Regions from separate parts of the Homo sapiens genome. Here region 1 is linked to region 2. Evidence: fine-mapped expression QTL. A gene starts in region 2. The other region holds a variant in brackets. All regions are shown on one strand. Distances are between the middles of the regions.

Region 1 (5,376 bases), 30 kb before region 2:
TAGAACATGAAAAACACTAAACATTAATGTAAAAAATGACAAATTTGAGTTAATCAAAGTAAAACCTGCTGCTTTTCAAAAGACACCTATAAAAATGAAGAGGCAAGTCAGAGACTGGAGAAAGATATCTGCAAAGGGCTGGTGTCCAGAATATAGAAAGAACCCGTATAACTCAATAAGAAGACACATAACCTAACAAAAAAAAAAACAGACAAAAGACGAACACAAAATTTATTTACATACATGAATGGTCATTAAGCAAATGAAAAGATTTTCAACTGAATTATCATCAGAGAAACACAAATTAGAACCACAATTCTTAGACACTATTTTACAATTACTACAATAACTAAATAAAAACACAGACAACGTCGAGTGTTGGCAAGAATGAGGAACAAGTGGAATACTCACATATTGCTGGCCACAGTGTAAAATGGTACAGCCATTTTGGAAAACTGTTTTGCAGTTTCCTATAAAGTTAAATGTACACTTACTATATGATACAGTTGGCTGTGTCCCCACCCAAATCTCACCTTGAAATGTAATAATCCTCCTGTGTCAAGGACGGGGCAAGGTGGAGATAGTTGAATCATGGGAGCAGTTTTCCCCATTCTGTTCTCATGGTAGTGAATAAATCTCATGAGATCTGATGGTTTTATAAATGGGAGTTCCCCTGCACATGCTCTCTTGCCTGTTGCCATGTAAGACGTCCCTTTGCATCTCCTTTGCCTTCCTCCATGATTGTAAGGCCTCTCCAGCCATGTAGAACTGTGAGTCAGTTAAATCTCTTTCCTTTATAAATTACCCAGTCTCAGAAATGTCTTTATTAGCATCATGAGAACAGACTAATACAATATAAGATCCAGCAATTATACTATTAGGTATTTACCCAAGAAAAATGAAAATAATGGCTGGATGTGGTGGCTCATGCCTGTAATTCCAGCACTTTGGGAGGCCAAGGCGGATGCTCATGCCTATAATCCTAGCATTTTGGGAGGCTGAGGCAGGTGGATCACTTGAGGTTAGGAGTTCGAGACCAGCCAGGGCAACATGGTGAAACCCTACCTCTACTAAAAATACAAAAACTAGCCAGGCGTGGTAGTGAACACCTGTAATCCCAGCTGCTAGGGAGGCTGAGGCAGGAGAATTGCTTGAACCCAGGAGGCAGAGGTTCCAGTGAGCCGAGATCGCACCACTGCACTCCAGCCTGGGTGACAGAGTGAGACTCTGTCTAAAAAACAAAAAAAAAAAAAAAAAAGAAAAGAAAAATGAAAATAATGTTTACACAAAGAGAGAGAGAGAGAGAGAGACACACACACACACACAAATGTGTCTATCAAAACTCATAGAAGTATTATTCACAATAGACAAGAACTGGAAACAACCCAAAGGCCCATCCAGACGTGATAATAAACTGTAGTATTTTCTTACAGTAGAATACTACTCAATAATAAAAAGGAACAAACTACAATAGAGGCAGCAACAGGGATGAATCTCAAAATAATATACCAAGTAAAAGAAGCAAGACACAAAAGAAGGCATACTGCATCATTCCAGCTACATGAAGTCCTAGAACCTGAGAGCACAATCTATAGCCCTGACCAGAAAGGTGAGCCAACACAGCCTGTCCGCGCCTACTTTGCCCTGAGCTAGAGTATCCAGGCTTAGCAAATAAAAATACAGGATGCTCAGCTAAGTTTCAATCTCAGGGAAACCACACATCACTTCTTAGGATAAGAATATCCCAAGCAATATCAGAAATATGCATGACATCTACCTGCATGGAACATACTTATACTGAAAAACTATTCCTTGTTCATCTGAGATTCAATTTTAATTAGGCAGTCTGTATTTTATCTGGCAACCGTGCCTACACTGTAGTTTGCTGTTGGCTTTTTAAGGGCAGGGCAGATATCTACTCATCAAGAGGTCCACTAGACTTGGTCTTACCCCAGCCACTTCTCAGAAGACAGAAAGCAAGCTCTGCCCCGGTCCACCTTAGAACTGCAGCCCCTTTCCATGCTTGGGGCCAGTTTTGCCATTGATTTCTCCAAGGGACTCCTCAGTAGGAGGGTGGGGGTGGCAAGTCTTGCCATCCATCCAAGGTCAGGGTGGTGAGCCCACAGCACCTGGCTTCCGCTGTGGCCACAGACAGAGCCCAATCTCTGACTCGGATGGATCCTTTTGACCACGTTTTTAGTATTTCAAGTTGTGAAAATATATCATCACTGTGTTGCTGTTTCATTTCGGCAATCTGTGTCTGTTCTGCTTTTCTTTTCAGGAGACATCTAAAGCTCCTGTTACTTTGCAGAACACACTCAATAACAGTTAATCAAGTCAGGGATTATGGCCACACAAGGTTTTTAGCAAGTTTCTGAGAAGTCAAATACCAGGTGTGATGTGTGCTAGTATTAACCACGCTGCCCAAGGAAAGGATCTGGCTTATGTATATTGCTTTTCACGCTAGAAAAAAAAAAGAAAACAAAACCTCTTTGAATCAAGACCTGTTAAGAGTTGTTTGGGGAATTATTTTTAAAAGAACTATTCTTTTTGGAATACCTACTTCCAACATAAACACTTTCTTATTAGGTTATTTTTATTTTTCTAGCCTAGCAACTAAAAAAATGTAATCTGCAGAACTGATTGCCTAATAGAAGCACATTTGCTTGCTTGCTTGAAAGAGCATGAATACGCATTAGTGAAAGAAAGAAAACTGAATTTGATAAGAACATTAACCCTTTTGGAGAAAATGCAGACAAAAGTAAAGGCGGTGGAAGAGAGCACGTGGGTGATGAAGCTGGGACACATTTTCCCTCCCTCCAGTTCTTGGAAAATTCCTAATTCTGGCTCATAAGTAATAGT[A/G]GCAAAAAGGTAAAAACATAAAATTAAAGCAGCCACGTAAAGAGGCAAAATTCTTGGGATTTAAGCCATTCAGAAGGACAAGTTGTCCAGGTCTCAATGTGTACAGAGATATCCAAGGGGCCCTGTACCACTTGCATTTATGCCAGGGTGGCCCAATGGAGAACTGCTGTTCAAACTTCAGGGTCATGGATTATTATGACACTAATAAAAATGATGAACCTGCTTCCTAGAAAAAAGCATATGCACCCATGGGCCCATACATTTACAGGCCATTCGAGAGGCTGAGACACTGCCCCAAGCCTATTCATGGAGCCCTGGTAACAATCCTTGTACTAGGCAAAACCAGCCTCCTTACCAGCTTCTGCCTCCTCCTGGCTCATCTCCACCAGCCGCTCACACTTAGGACCAAGGCAGGCTGCCCCTGGGCTTGACCTTGGCCTCCTCCATTCTCCCTGTCAGCAGGTGGCAGCCATCCCATTGCTGGTATTCCTAGAATCCAATCAGGATTAGTAGACCGCTTGCCACAGTGCTACACAGCCAGGTAACACCGTGTTTAACCAAGCAGTGGTGAGAGATTTGGGGCAGGAAAGGGGCTGAGCTTCTGCAATGCAGACAGGCAGCGTGGAGCCTCCCAATACCACTTCCTGCAGGGCCCAGGGCAAGGCCCTTGCTCTCTCTGAGTTTCTGTGTCCTCATCTGTAAATGGGAATAATAACAGTGACTGCCATAGGAGCTGCAAGGAGGATGAGATGATATTATGCATATAAAAGTGCCAGACAGTCTCTAGGCACCTAGAACCCTCAAGGGGCCAGCTGTCATAACTGCCGACAGTTCACATGCGTCTGTGTTTCACTATTAGTTTCACTTCACACCTGCAGAGGGATTTACACACTGCAAGGCATTTCCTTTGGAAATTTATTATTGTAATTCCCTATTAACTCACAATACCCAGGAGATAGGAAATAAATTATTATTCCCATTTTACAGGTGAGAAGACTAAGACTCAGATAGATACGTTAGGTGAGTTGCTTTTCTTGACTCCCAAAGCTGGTACCTTCCCCCGGAATCAGGTCATCTAGCAGAAACCCAGGAATTGAAGGTGATCAATGTTCCCTCCCCCAGATAGAAAGACATGGGTTACCCACAAGCTACAACCAAGTTCATGAACAGTGCAGAAGCCTTTCTTGTTCCCGTCATATCACAGAGCTCTCTGCTTGAACTCAACGTCACGGCTTCTCATCCCACCTTTTACTCCAGCCACTGTGGCAGCAACAAGCTTCCTGCAGGAGGTACCTGTGGGCACCTTTTCTATGACACACGCATGGTGCCCACACAGCCTGGGAATGACTCTGTGTGGCAGCCCTGGACCAAGGGAAGGCATGTACTGGATGACGGCTCCTCCTTCTGTCCTCAGGCAGACCACTCTGAGAGGCAAGTCCCCCCCAGCTCCTCAGTGCCCAGTGGATGGGATCCGGCAGCCCACAGTGGCGGCCAGCCTGAGGAAGCACTGTGGAAGACCTTGCCCTTCTCCCCACTTCACTCTCTCAGCCCTGCTCCTGTTCCCTGATATGAGCTCCCCGAACAAACCCCATCATGCTAGGCCTAATACCTGGGAGGAACCCAGTCTCCAGCAGGAGCCCTTGCTCTTGTCTGTCTCCCTTTCCTCCCACTGCCCTCCCCACCATCCTCTGCACCCACCTCCCTCTGCTGGCCCAGCTAGGGGAGCCTACCGGACACCAAGAAAAACCTGTCTTTATAAAAGCTGCTGTGACTCAGGACTCAGAAGGTCCCCTACTCCACTGGGGCCTATCATGAGGTAGAGAATGGGAGGAGAGAGAGGACCAGGAAAAATAACAAATGCGTACTAGGCTTAATACCTAGGTGATTAAATGATCTGTACCACAAACCCCCCTGACACAAGTTTACCTATGTAACAAACCTGCACATGTACCCCTGAACTTAAAAGTTTAAAAAAAAGGACTCCCCTCCCAAGGGACTGGATCCCAACATCAAAGTTCCATGACTGATTGCCTGACATCAGCACTCCCCTTCCTCTGGAAGGCCCCAGCTTGAGATCCGGGCTTTCTTCCGTCATGGCCAAGCCAACTCTGCGGGGACAGAAGCACTGCTCCTAAACCCCCACCCCAGGGCTTCCGCCTTTCCACCCAAGGCGAGAAGCCAGCAACCTTCCCCAGCTTCCCTCGGATTCCTCCTTCCATGCGTGACCTTGATGGGAGGCCCTGACACTTCAGCCAGGGTAGTCTGGTGCCAATCTTGACTGGAGTCAGACCCACAGGTAGCTGATTTATTGGAGATAGAGTCTTCTTAGCAAGCCTCCACTTTCGGTTGATTCTACACCCAGGGCCTCACACACACCCATGCCTGCCTCATCCTGACCCACGGGTACAACACCAGGTTCATATCTGCCATGTTTGCATCAAGCACACCGCCAAGCTCTGCCTGTGAAACATTAGAAATACAATGAGTAATAACCACAGCATTCCCTGGCCTGGC
Region 2 (5,376 bases):
ACCTAGAGCTGTGACAGGCATTTTATGACCACAAAGGAAGTCATTTCGTATGGTTACTATGACAGCTCCAAAAGATGGAAAGACCATTGAAGACTGATCCTTGATGATGTCACTGAGCCACTGAGATCATGAGCCACCACCTCTATTCTTGGTGTTAAGGGAGATTTTAAATCTTCCTATTGTTTAAGCCAATGTTCACTGGGTTTCTATTATTTGCATTTGTTAACACGTCAATCTGCACATGAGTGCTGTATCTCCTGAAGGCTTTCATATTGGGACTATTAACGTGAATGAGTAGAAATAGTCTTGGGTCACACTTTTCCCCAAGAACTTTGTAAATATTGCTTCATTTTCATCTGACATCAAAATCTGAGGCTAGCCAGATTTCTCCTACCATTTCTCTTTGAAGTTCAATAATGTATCCAGGACATTTCCTGATGTTGAGTGTTGTATATCAGTTTTCCCTGGAACACAGTGAGAATTTCTGATCTGCAGATTTAATTCTTTTATTTCAAAAACATTTCTTGTATCTCTGAAAATAGTCTAATGTTGAAGGTCTTTCTTGCAGGAATATCAACTAACCCTTTTTGTAAATTGCTCAGGTGTCTCACTCTTTCCTCTCTACATTTACTGTAATTGAGTCAGGTTTTTCCTCTAAGTCAGTAATTCAGCTGAATTGTGCCTGGTCTATTTCTTGGTTTTTCCAACTTATTTTCTGTATTGCACTACTTCTGTTTTTCTTTTGGTTTCCTTAGCTGTGTAATCTTCCTTCCTTTCTCATTCCATTGTTTTATATTTTCTCCCAGTTCTTATTTTATTACCTTAATGTTCTTATTAGCTTATTCTATAGCATGGAGCACAAGTAAAGATTTTTCTGTTTTGGCAGGGCGCGATGGCTCACGCCAGTAATCCCAGAATTTTGGGAGGCCGAGGCGGGCAGATCTCCTGAGGTCAGGAGTTCCAGACCAGCCTGACTAACATGGTGAAACCCTGTCTCTACTAAAAATACAAAAAATTAGCTGAGCATGGTGGTAGGCGCCTGTAATCCCAGCTACGTGGGAGGCTGAGGCAGGAGAATTGCTTGAACCCGGGAGGTGGAGGTTGCCGTGAGCCGAGATCACACACTGCACTCCAGCCTGGGTGACAGGGGGAGACTCCATCTCAAAACAAACAAACAAAAAAGATTTTTCTGCTTTTATTTATTTGGTTAGATTTTCTCCAGACTTTCTTTCACTTGTCTGGCCTATGTTATAATCCTTTCTTTTCTTCTACTTTTATGAAAGTCTTGGTTTTAGACAGTGGATATGCTGCTTCTTTCTGTCTTATTCCTATTTAACACGTGTTGCTCTTTGAAAATGTTCTGTTTGTTCAAATATAATGTGGGCGAATTCTCTTTGACTGTCTTCTCACTGTATCTGAGTTCCAGAGCTGAGATACTGCACTTTTCTCTGCTTTTCTGGAACCTGAGTACACATTTAGGATAAGGACTGCTCCCTTGAATCCACACAACTTCCAGGCTCTGTGCTCTCTTCTGAGATTTTGATAAGCTCCTTTACCACCATCCTCCCACTCTTGTCACGAGTGTGCCCTATTCCTGTGACAACATGCCCTTTGACTTTGAATCTTTGCCTCAATTCAATGTAGGGACCTAGAAAAAGGCAAGCCCTGGAGATTTCTCCTGTCCCTGCTCAGGTCCTGGGAGCGGTAGGGATTGACCTCCACTCAGGATGGTTTTATCTGGCCGGATTTCCCCAGGTGTTTCCTCGTTCGGCTCACCCTTTCATACCCCTTCTTTTCAGTGTGTGTATTCTTTGCATCAAAAAGCATTAATGAGAATTCTTGGTGTTGTGTCTACTTGGTCTCTGCCCCCTGAAGGGCTTTGGGAGGGTGGAGATGAGGCTGGACACCATTCTCCACGGCAAGCTGCTATTTCACTGAGTTTTTGAAGTTTACGGTACAAGGTTGTACTCAATTTCTCGTCTGAGAAATAATTTGCTCCATTATTTGAAGGCGGTGCGGAGGGCTGGCTTTTACTATGCTTTTGCGCATTTCATTAGTAATGGTGGGGGAGAGGTTTTGTGATCCTGATTATAATTTTTACCTGGATGTCCTCTCCACGCCTTTGACAGCATTAAACCTGGCGTTCCAATAGGAGCTGCAGGGTCTAAAATGTGCAAATAAACCTCAACAGTTACTAAAGTCGAAGAAAGAAGAGCAATGAAAGCCAACACTCATAGCGACTTACGGATAACTGTTAATAGCATCCACACTGCATTTTACATTTACAACGCACCCGCGCCTTAGTTCATACTCATTAAGTCTCCGAAGGGCGCGTCTGCCTAAGTCTTGGGTGCCCAGAATCTAAGTCTGCACTTGGCCCAGAATAGATGCCCAGTAAAGTTCTGAACGAACGACTGTTATACCCAGTTTACAGATGGGAAAACTGAAGACCACCATCATTAAGGGCCTTGCCCAAGGCCGCAGAGCTGACAGTGGATGAAAATGGGGCCAGCAGGAAAGCGGGAAGACGGCCTGGAGGACCACAGGCTAAGTGCTGGGGCCCGGAGCAGGCTCGCCAAGCGGCCGGGCCCCGCGACGGAGCGCTCGGACTCCGACCGGCTCCCACAGCTGCGCCCACCCAGGCCTCCCGCGGTGGCGCAGGCGCGGAATGCGGGGGGCGGGGGGGGGGAGGGGGCAGGCGGAAGGCAATGCGCAGGCGCGGCGTTTCCGTTGCTAGGGCCGCGTCGCGCCCACCTGAGTGGCCGAAGTGAGGTTCGCGAGTCTCTGGGTCGCGACGGGAAGGAGTGAAACACCTCTCTGCGCCTGCGCGCTCCGTGCCTGCGAAGCAAACCCGGCCTCACCTTTTCCTGCCCGAAGCAGAAGATTCTCGCAGTCCTGGTTTCTCCCTCCAGAAGACCCCCCACCCAAATCCTCTGTAGCTCCTGGTAGTGCCCTGACCCCTGCTGCCACCGTCCTTCAGAGAGCAACGGAAGAGCTTCCCGGAGGGCGAGGAAAAGAGGGAAAGTAGCCAGCAATGTCGAACGCGTAAGTGATGGGCTCCCAGCCACAGCCATGGAGTGGGCTTCCCCAAGCCAGAAGGTGGCTTGCTTTCTGCTTCTCTTATTTTCTTTTTTCTTTTCTTTTCTCCTCCCCTCTCAACTTCCCTCCTCTCCCCCACTTTTTTTCCTTTTAGGAAATTCAAATATGCCTCGGGATAGAGTATCTGCTTCTTGTGAGCAAGGAAAATCATACACTTAGATCTCCCCCTCCCCTACGCGTCCCACCACCCCATGGGGATGAGCTCCCAGTCTTCCGTATACCTGCCAAGCCCTTAGGGGCTATTGCTGAGAAGCACTATGCCATTTTGTCTGCTTTTTTTGTTAATCTTTCACGGTAACAAATACGGTGCTTTGTGGAAACACCTAGGTCCTGAAATTTAAGTCTAGAAAGATCTTGGGAAAGCATTATTGACATTTGCTTTTCACAGACTCGAGTGGCATTGGTACTGAAAGAAGTGTGTGCCTAGCACTGTGTCGTTTACACAGCACTTGCACAAAGTTACCTCATTTGGTCTTCGTAAGAATAATTTCCAACAGGTATTACAGCGCTGACCCTGTAGACACTGTTCTAACCGCTTCACAGCAACCCTGTAACGTAGGGGCTGTTAATATTGTTATTTCCATTTTACAGATGAGGGAACTTGGGGATGAAGAGGTGAAGTAGTTCACACAGCAAGTGAACAGTGCCAAGCCGGGCACTGTAGCTCCAGCCTGCACTGTTGCTATTACGTGCCCTGTATTCTAGGCAAGGAAATAAGAGCAGAGAGGTTAAAGGCTTGCCAGGGTTTGGAAATGGGGAAGATCAAGAGTTCTGTTTAAGACGTATTGAGTTGGAAGTGCCCATTGGACATCACGTGGAGATGAAATAGGCAATTAAAATATTCAGATCTTGGGTTCAGGAGCGAGACCCATGTCTGAAATATAAACTTGCTCACTGTCAGCCTGTGATGGTCTTTGTGAGACATAGAATGAATATTAATAAAGAGGTGTAAGGACTGATCCTGGGATCATCCACAGTAAGGCTGGGGGAAGAGGAGACCTGGCAAAGGAATCAAAGACATGATCCATGAGGAAGAAGCGAGTGGAAGAAATAATAGTGTTTCCAGGAGAAGTAACTTCTTTCTCCTCCATCAAGTGCTCCTGAGACAAGTTGGGGTAGAACTGAGAACTGACTGTTGATTTGGCAGTGTGGAGTTCACCAGTGACCTTGACAGGAGCTGATTCAGTGGTATGATGAGATAGAAAGACTTACTCAAGTGAATGTAGGGGGAGAGAAACTATAGATGGTGAGCATAGCTAACTCTTTAAAGGAGTTTTGCTGCAGAGGAAAGGAAATATGTTGGCAGCTAGAGGCAGAGGACATGGCTCCAAGACAGAAAACAATAGAATGTTTGTGTGTGGAAGGGAATGGCCCAGAATGATATAGGAGGAGGAGGGAGAAGTGGGTGACATCGTTGGTAGTGAGAGGACATGGGATCCAGGGGGTGCTGGCCTTAGGTAGAGGAACTCAGCACTTAACAATGGAACAGGTAGGAAGGCAGCATCAAGATGCTATTCAGTGGGTGGGTGCTCTGGAGGTGGCCTGGAACGATCATGGTAGATGGAAGATGATGGTGACTGAGGGGCAGTGGTGACAGCATCAGATGAAATGGGATTCAAAGCCTGGGAGTGTTGGGAGGAGGGAAGGCAAATGTCTGGAGGTGCAGTGAAGAGAAGGGGTCCCCTTGACCCAGCCCCACAGCCAGAGACAGAGGGCTCTGGGGGTAACAGGAGCCTCTACTGAGAGGGCTTCTGAGCAGAGACAGGCCTTCCGTAGAGCAAGAAGGCAGGGGGAGTATTTGGGGAAGAAGACAGCAAACTAGTTAAGATTGGAAGATTCAGAAGGTTTTATCTTGTGCAAAATAACTTGAAAAGAATTCCCATTGTGCAATATTTTGAGTTCCCACGGAAGTGCATATATTCAAGTGAATATTCAAGTGTTTCCCTCCCCTACCCACTCCGTTATAGGAAAACTGCCAAGCTGTAGAAATAACAGTCTGGTCTTTTTAACTGTCATATTCAGTCTTCATCCACAAGCCTCCTGACTTCAAAATCTGTCATATCTCTAAGTCATATGCTCAAGTCTGAAACCAATCATATACTTTCAAAAACTGTTAAGTAGTCTCATGGATAAAATATTACCTTCTGTTTGCAAAGTGCATTTAAAATTCCAGGAACACTTTCACACCTGTTGTTCCATCTGTATTAGTCTGTTCTCACACTGCTAATAAAGACATACCCGAGACTGGGTGATTTATAAAGGAAAGAGGTTTAATTG

Direction of the effects. Positions count from the first base shown, and alleles are read on the strand shown. Sizes are in standard deviations (SD) of each study's normalised expression.
For the expression in esophagus muscle of the gene that starts at base 2,826 in region 2, G is the low allele of the variant in region 1 and A is the other (moderate effect, 0.65 SD a copy in GTEx).

The links.
Region 1: its variant is fine-mapped to the expression of DRC11 in esophagus muscle (GTEx, PIP 0.90).

Annotation. Positions count from the first base shown.
Region 1 is chr2:236,535,189-236,540,564 of GRCh38, reverse strand. It overlaps a transcript of ACKR3 not described here. Among named protein-coding and RNA genes, the nearest start is that of DRC11, 30 kb to the right of the region's middle. RefSeq lists enhancers at 2,302-2,351, 3,455-3,674. The variant A/G (reference allele first, on the strand shown) is at 2,863.
Region 2 is chr2:236,504,926-236,510,301 of GRCh38, reverse strand. DRC11 (dynein regulatory complex subunit 11) reads left to right here and starts at 2,826. Exons shown (of 19, transcript NM_024726.5): 1 at 2,826-3,045. The coding sequence starts at 3,035. RefSeq lists a silencer at 2,651-2,700.